2 linked regions of the Homo sapiens genome follow. The protein of the gene in region 2 purifies or fractionates together with the protein of the main gene of each other region. This does not show direct contact. Each region holds a gene or a part of one and is shown on either strand. Other genes may lie near its edges. The genes, in order: UPF1 and XRN1.

What was found.
Region 1: the proteins of XRN1 (region 2) and UPF1 purify together in Homo sapiens (affinity purification with western blotting; 4 studies listed by BioGRID and IntAct, with this or other methods). This does not show direct contact.

Annotation. Positions count from the first base shown.
Region 1 is NC_000019.10:18,834,746-18,838,665, reverse strand, and holds part of UPF1 (regulator of nonsense transcripts 1), read right to left. Parts: intron 1-3,920. UniProt on the Homo sapiens protein: RNA-dependent helicase required for nonsense-mediated decay (NMD) of aberrant mRNAs containing premature stop codons and modulates the expression level of normal mRNAs.
Region 2 is NC_000003.12:142,329,314-142,333,233, reverse strand, and holds part of XRN1 (5'-3' exoribonuclease 1), read left to right. Parts: intron 1-144; coding exon 145-267; intron 268-699; coding exon 700-859; intron 860-3,596; coding exon of another isoform or gene 3,597-3,618; coding exon 3,619-3,800; intron 3,801-3,920. UniProt on the Homo sapiens protein: Major 5'-3' exoribonuclease involved in mRNA decay. Required for the 5'-3'-processing of the G4 tetraplex-containing DNA and RNA substrates. The kinetic of hydrolysis is faster for G4 RNA tetraplex than for G4 DNA tetraplex and monomeric RNA tetraplex.

The sequences.
Region 1 (3,920 bases), on a different chromosome or scaffold from region 2:
GAGCATTTTTTTTTTTTAAGATGGAGTTTTGCTCTTGTTGCCCAGGCTGGAGTGCAATGGCACAATCTCAGCTCACCGCAACCTCCACCTCCCGGGTTCAAGCGATTCTCCTGCCTCAGCCTCCCAAGTAACTGGGATTACAGGCATGTGCCACTATACCCAGCTAATTTTGTATTTTTAGTAGAGACAGGATTTCTCCATGTTGGTCAAGCTGGTCTGGAACTCCTGACCTCCGGTGATTCACCTGCCTCTGCCTCTCAAAGTGCTGAGATTACAGGCGTGAGCCACCAAGCCCGGCCTGGATTTTCTTCTTTTTATTAAGACAAGGTCTCACTCTGTCACCCAGGCTGGAGTGCAGTGGTGCGATCATGGACATTTTGCCCAGGCTGGTCTCAAACTCCTGAGCTCAAATGATCTGCCTGCCTCAGCCTCCCAAAGTACTGGGATTACAGGCATGGGCCATCGTGCCCAGCTACATGTGCAGATTTTAAACTCACCACTTTTCGGAACCCAAGACTGTATGGAACTCACCCCGCCTTGGTCATAATCTCAGGGCTCAGCAGAAGATGGTGTGTTCACCTGGACAGTCAAGGATAGGTCAGGACAATGGCTTTGAAGACAAAGTAGCAACTTTCTATCCTGAGTATTTTACCACTTCAAAAGGAAAAGTGAGCCCAGGTTTACACACTCAGAGAAGTGGAGGCAATACAGAGAAGTCTGGCAGGAGGAGAGTGAGGGCTGGACGACAGGTCGGCTAGGAGCTTTAGCTAGTTGTCCCTTACGATCCAGAAAGACAGCATGTTTTTCCTAGGGAAACAACTCATGCACTCAGAGTAAAATCCCAGTACGAGATGACTATTCAGCTGTGACTCCCACAGGCTACCAGGAGTGGAGACGGAACAGGCAGTGCAGACCTGACCTGAGGATGAAGGAACAAAGTGGGACCAGTACCAAGCAGCATCTATCTACAAGGTCACCCAGAGCACCTGCACAAAAACATGCGTGTTGCTGCCTAAAAGGTCTGTACCTACCCACAGACCTCATACTTTCAGGTGAGCTAAGAAAAGCAACTCAAACCAATAGGCACACATTTTTCCCACTGGATGTACACACTGCTTTGTTTACCCATTCATCTGCTGATGGCCACTGGGGCTGCTTCCGGTTTGGGGTTCTCATGAAGAGATGCTGTCAGCATTTGGCGCAGCCCTGCGTACACACACCTTCATCTCTGCTAGGTCACAGGTAGGTGTATGGCATGAGAGTTCCAGGCAGCACTTTTGCCAGGCTCAATGGCTCACTCTGTAATTCCAACACTTGGGAGGCCTGAGGTGAGAGGATCTCTTGAGCCCAGGAGTTCAAGACCAGCCTGGGTAACATGGCAAAACCCCATCTCTACAAAAAAAGAAAAATCAGCCAGACGTGGTGGCACACACCTGTAGTCCCAGCTACTTGGGAGGCTGAGGTGGAAGGATCGCTTGAGCCCAGGAGGTCGAGGCTGCAGTGACCCATGATAACGCCACTGCACTACAGCCTGGGTGACAGAATGAGACTTTGCCTTAAAACAAAAACAAAAAACCCAAGTAGCACTTTCAGCCTTTTAAAAAAAGTATGGCAGGCTGGGCGCAGTGGCTCACGGCTGTAATCCCAGCACTTTAGGAGGTAGAGGAGGGCGGAACACGAGGTCAGGAGATCAAGACCATCCTGACTAACATGGTGAAACCCTGCCTCTATAAAAATACAAAAAATTAGCCGGGCATGGTAGCACACACCTGTAGTCCCAGCTACTCGAGAGGCTAGGGCAGGAGAATCGCTTGAACCCAGGAGGTGGAGGTTGCAGTGAGCCAAGATTGTGCCACTGCACTCCAGCCTAGGCAACAGAGCGAGACTCCGTCTCCAAAAAAAAAAAAAAAAAAAAATGGGTGGATAGTGGTATCTCCCTGACTTTTCTTTCCAGTTTCATTGAGGCATAACTGACATACCATAAGCTGCAAATGTTTAGTGTGCCATTTTAGAAACTGACATACATCAATGTACTTAAACACCCATAAAACTATCACTACAATCACGATAATAAAAACGTCCATTACCCCCAAGTTTCCTGTGCCCTTTGTCACCTGCCTCCCCTTTCCCACCTTTCTGTCCAGCCACCACTGGTCTGCTTTCTATTGCTGCAGGCTAGCTGGCAATTTCTAGAATTTTTTTATGAATTAAATCATATGATGAATGACACATACAAAAAAGTAATTATTATGAGACACATCCATGTTGTTGCAGGTATCAATAGTTTGTTCCTTCTTAATACTGAGCAGTATTTCCAACTCTTAAGAGTTTCACTCTAGTTCCCGTTTGGAGGATCCAGGGCAGAAGCTACAGTCAAGAGGAAATATTCCAACCAGGCAGACCAAAAGGCTTGTAACACCAGCTATTATGCAAAGGACTTCTGAAATTACCTTCACTGTCCTGGGAGCAGGAGAAGTGGCAGCAGAGAAGGGCCCAGGAAAAGGTCAGATGCTCGAAAACTGTCCCTGTATCTTAAGGACACTTGGCAATACTGTGTCAGCGCTTTTCATCCCAGGATCTCAAGGGCTTTGATAAATATCAGTTTCATTTCATAAACAAGAAAAGGAGTGTTATCTGAACCAGCTCTGAGTGCAGGGAGTCACCCCTGCTGCCACTTTCCCATCCCGGTGGGGACACACTGTCTTTCAACACACATTAAGGGAAAACCAACTGCGCAAAACCAGTTCAGGTAGGGTTGGTATGGAAAGTGGCTACACACTGGAAAACAGTCTTGCAGTTACTGAAACCATTAAACCCAAGGTTACTACGCGGCCCAGCAGGTCTATAAACACATCCACGCAGAAACCTGTACACTCATGGCCACAGCAGTGCTATTCACAAAAGCCAAGAGGTGGAAACAACCCAAATGTCCATCAACAGATGACGAGATAAACAAAACATGGTCCATCCATCTGGACCATTCCACCCATGGAATATTACTCAGCCTTAAAAAGGAATGAAATGCTGGCCAGGTGCGGTGGCTCATGCTTGTAATCCCAGCACTTTGGGAGGCCGAGGCAAGTGGACCACATGGTCAGGAAATCAAGACCATCTGGCCAACATGGTGAAACCCCGTCTCTACTAAAAATACAAAAATTAGCCGGGGCATGGTGGTGTGCACCTGTAATCCCAGCTACTGGGGAGGCTGAGGCAGGAGAATCGCTTGAACCTGGGAGGCACAGGTTGCAGTGAGCCAAGATCACGCCACTGCACCCCAGCCTGGGCAACAGAGCGAGACTCTGTCTCAAAAAAAAAAAAGGAATGAAATGATGACACATACCACAGCGTGGATGAACCTCGATCAGGTTCATTTTCCTGAATGCTCGGCCAGGGAACAGCTACGAAGCTCACCTTGTAGCTACTTCTCACACATCACGCAGAGTGAAAGGAGCCAGACACAAAACACCATATATGATATGATTCCGTTGATGTGAAATGCCCAGAACAGGCACATCTTGAGACAGAAAGCAGGTGAGTGGTTGCCAGGGGCTGTGGAGGTAGGACGGATGGGCTAAGGGGTGCAGGGTTTATCTCTGGGGTGACAAAAATGTTCTAAAGTTTACTGTGGTAATGGCTGCACAACTCTGAATATACTAAATAAAAGCCGCCGAACTGTACACTTTATATGGGTAAATTGTATGTTGTGGCAAGTGAATTCTATTTCAATAAAGCCGCTAAGCAAAAGTGACTGCAGGGCACTTGACAGCTGATAGCCACTTCCCCAGTAAAATAAAAATTAAAAAAGCAGAATGAGAGTTTCCAGGAGCCCCCAACTTAACAGCTGGTTACACGGCCAACTCCTGAGGACAAACAGGGAAAGTCTTCCCAAATATCTTAGCAGACACTGCCTTCAATTCACA
Region 2 (3,920 bases):
TATTCCAATTCTCTTCCCAAACTTTAACACCTGGGAAGATGATTGAGTGAAAATCGAATGACCATTTTTGTACATAAAACTCAGCTTTTTGTGTGTTCTTGTATTATACGTTCATCTTCATGCCCAAAATATTTATTCTTTTAGCCTAACTCTGGAATTGAGAACTTTTTAGCATCTTTGAATATCTCCAAAGAAAATGAAGTACAGTCATCTCATCATGGGGAGCCTCCAAGTGAAGAGCATTTGTCACCACAGTCATTTGCCATGGTTCGTATTTTGTAGGAACTTTCTTACTGTGGTAATTTCTCGACTGTTGACCATGCAGACATATCCCATGCAAGTGTTCAAACACTTCCATCATGGAGGCTGGTATGTTACATCATTATTGTCATCTTGTGAGGAAACCAGGCTGCCCTGGGCAATTTAGCCATACTTTTTCTCTTTAGACCACAGTTCCCCTGCTTTTCAAACATTGCTACTAGGTAACTGGGATGAAAGTTAAGCAGGAGGATAAGTATCGTTTCTGTATCAGAAATGTGGGTGTTGGGTTTTTTTTTTTCAGTTTCTATCTGAATGTAGTTAATGTCTTAATTGTTAACAATGGAATTCTTTCCAAGAAAGATCAATAAGTTCTACAGATGTAATGTTGACTTTGTTCTCTTCACCCTCACCATCTCCATGTGAATCATTTTCAAAAAGAAGGGAACACGGATGCTTAAAGAAATTCTAAAAATTGATGGCTCTAACACTGTGGACCATAAGAATGAAATCAAACAGATTGCTAATGAAATCCCTGTTTCCTCTAACAGAAGAGATGAATATGGATTACCCTCTCAGCCTAAACAAAATAAGAAATTAGGTAAGTAAACTAAATACTATTACCAATAATATCATTTTAAAAATTCAATTCATTTGGTTCTTTTTAATCATGTACTTTTAAAGATAAAACTGCTTTTATTTTAATGTATTTATTTATTTTAGAGATGGTGTCTTGCTGTGTTGGCCAGGCTGGTCTCAAACTTCTGACCTCAAGCAATCCTCTCACTTCAGCCTCCCAAAGTGCTGGGATTACAGGTATATGCCACCACACCTGGCCCAAAACTACTTTTATTCTTAAAACTATAATTTTTATATTTGTTTCAGTTATATAATAATATAACTGGCCAGGTGTGGCTCATGCCTGTAATCTCAGAACTTTGGGAAGCTGAGGCAGGCGGATCTCTTAAGCTCAGGAGTTCAAGACCAGCCTGGGCAACATGGCGGAAACTCTGTCTCTCTAAAAAATACAAAAGTTAGCTAGGTGTGGTGGCGTGTGCCTGTAGTCCCAGCTACTGGGGAGGCTGACGTGGTAGGATTGCTTGAGCCTTGGAGGCAGAGGTTGCAGTGAGCCAAGATCACGCCACTGCACTCTAACCTGGGCAACAGAGATAGACCCTGTCTCAAAAAACAAAAAGAACAATAATAATACAACCATGTAACCAATAGATCTACAGTCACTAAATGTCTTCTTGTGATTACTTAATTGTAGTGTTATAGATAATCATTCTGTAGACATCCAAACCTTTAAAAGTTTGCACATTCTAGCTTTTGTCCTCAGTAATTTAAAAATTATCATGTAACTTAAATACATTATTTAACTTTTCTGAAATCTTGTTTCTTATTTATAAAATAAGAATAATACATTACAGATTACTTGTGGTAATTATATAACATGTATAAATATAAAACAGCACTATGTCCAACACATTGTAGGTGCTAATAATTGATATTAATATTATGTTAAAATAACCTAACTGTTGTAAAAATAGAAAAATCTACAAAATCAATTAAAAATCATTAATAGAGTTAGATATAGGAAAGTGAGTCATACTCTTAAGTCTGTAAAGCCTATAGCATAACATCTGGCACATAACTGGATTTCAGTAAATATCCGCCATATTTGTTCCTACCCTGAATGTCCTCTATACTTTAGCATTTTATCTGTATAATGATCTACTAAAGGCAGCCAGGAAGAATGACTGATACAAAAGTGGATGTGGGCAGAAGTTTCTCAGAGAAGTCAAAAACATTTTGGAATAAGCAGATCTAAGCGTATTAAAGATCAAAACCTGGAATTGGCTGGGCACGTTGGCCCACATCTGTAATGCCAGCACTTTGGGAGGCCAAGGCGGGTGGATCACCTGAGGTCAGGAGTTTGAGACCAGCCTGGCCAACATGGTGAAACCCCCTTTCTACTAAAAATACAAAAAATTAGCCGGGTGTGGTGGCAGGCGCCACCAAGTAGCTGTAATCCCAGCTACTTCAGAGGCTGAATCAGGAGAATCGCTTGAACCCGGGAGGTGGAGGTTGCAGTGAGCCAAGATCACGCCATCACACTCGAGCCTGGGCAACAAGAGCGAAACTCTGTCAAAACAAAAACAAAACCTGGAATAAAAGCAGAACCTAACCCCATTTATATTCCAGTGATAATTAATTAAAAATTCCAAAAAATATTAGGAACCTGATTATTTATTATAGTGACAGACATGGTCCTGAAATAGAACCAAATTAATTTTAAGACAAAATTAGATAAAGATGGTCCCATTGTCAAAAACAAGTAAGTTTTACTTTATTTCAGTATAGGAAAAAAAAAAAAAAAAACTCATAGGCTTTAGAGTCTTAGGGTCACTAGCTCAGAATCCAGCCCCTGTTATAGAACTAACTGGCTCTGTGACTTTGAGCAAGCCACTTAACTGCTTTTTTAATCTATATTAGTAAGAAGTTTGGATTAATTCTTCAATGAGGTATGCTTTTGTTCTATTAGTGAGTTTGTTAATCATAAAGAATGTGAACACTCAGAATTTTAAAATCATCTTCCATATAAAAACACTTAGAAGACAATTTCAAAAAAAACTTTTAAGAAATATTATTTCAGAGCCACAAAAATATTCATCCATGTGTCTCAGAATGTAAGGTGGAATTGCAAGAATTGAGGTGGAAGCCAAAACTTCAAAACTTAAGGATGAATTATATTTCAGCTCAAGAAAGCCATTTGTTTATTCATTCTTTTATTTTTCTCTTCTTACTTCTGCAAAACAAGAAAGCCATTTGTTTGTTCAAATTTTACCTGTAGCAGTACCATGTAGTCATTAGCTGCTCAAGGTTTTAATTTTTGGCAGTTAGGTACTTATATTTTAAAATCTTTATCTTAATAATTTATCATTAATCAATTATACTCATCCAAAAACCTTTACTGAAGTCACAATAATTTTAGGAAGTACTAAATAGTTGTTTATATGTGCTTCATGGAAGACTCATCTTTTTAATGCAGTTGGTGGCTCTATAGCGTCTAACTGAATTTTTCAAGGTTTTCGACCAAATTTATAAGGTGCGTGGCCAGAGGACCACTGAAGGTAAGCTGACAGTCACTTGGATGGCAGGTTGTACTGCTAGAGTCCAGGATTTGGAACTAGAGCCACCTGAAATCCTGATTCTGTTATTTAATAATGGGTGGCCTTGAGCAATTCACTTCACTTTTTAGCAGTTTCCTGCTTGCTCTTCTATAAAACCCTACAATAAGTGCATAATTTGAGATAGTATTTTATTAATAAAGATAGACTCTTTTCTCTTTTTTGGTAGCATCTTATATGAACAAGCCTCACAGTGCTAATGAGTACCATAATGTTCAGTCTATGGACAATATGTGTTGGCCTGCCCCCAGCCAGATCCCTCCTGTATCCACACCAGTAACTGAACTTTCTCGAATTTGTTCCCTTGTTGGAATGCCACAACCTGATTTCTCCTTTCTTAGGATGCCACAGGTATAGTATACTACTGTTCTATTTATATAAATTATTTAACATTAAGCTTAAATAAATTGGTTGAAAATGTTTAGCTAGAAAAAATAAAATGGGGCCTATTTTTCTTAACTTTATGAGCAG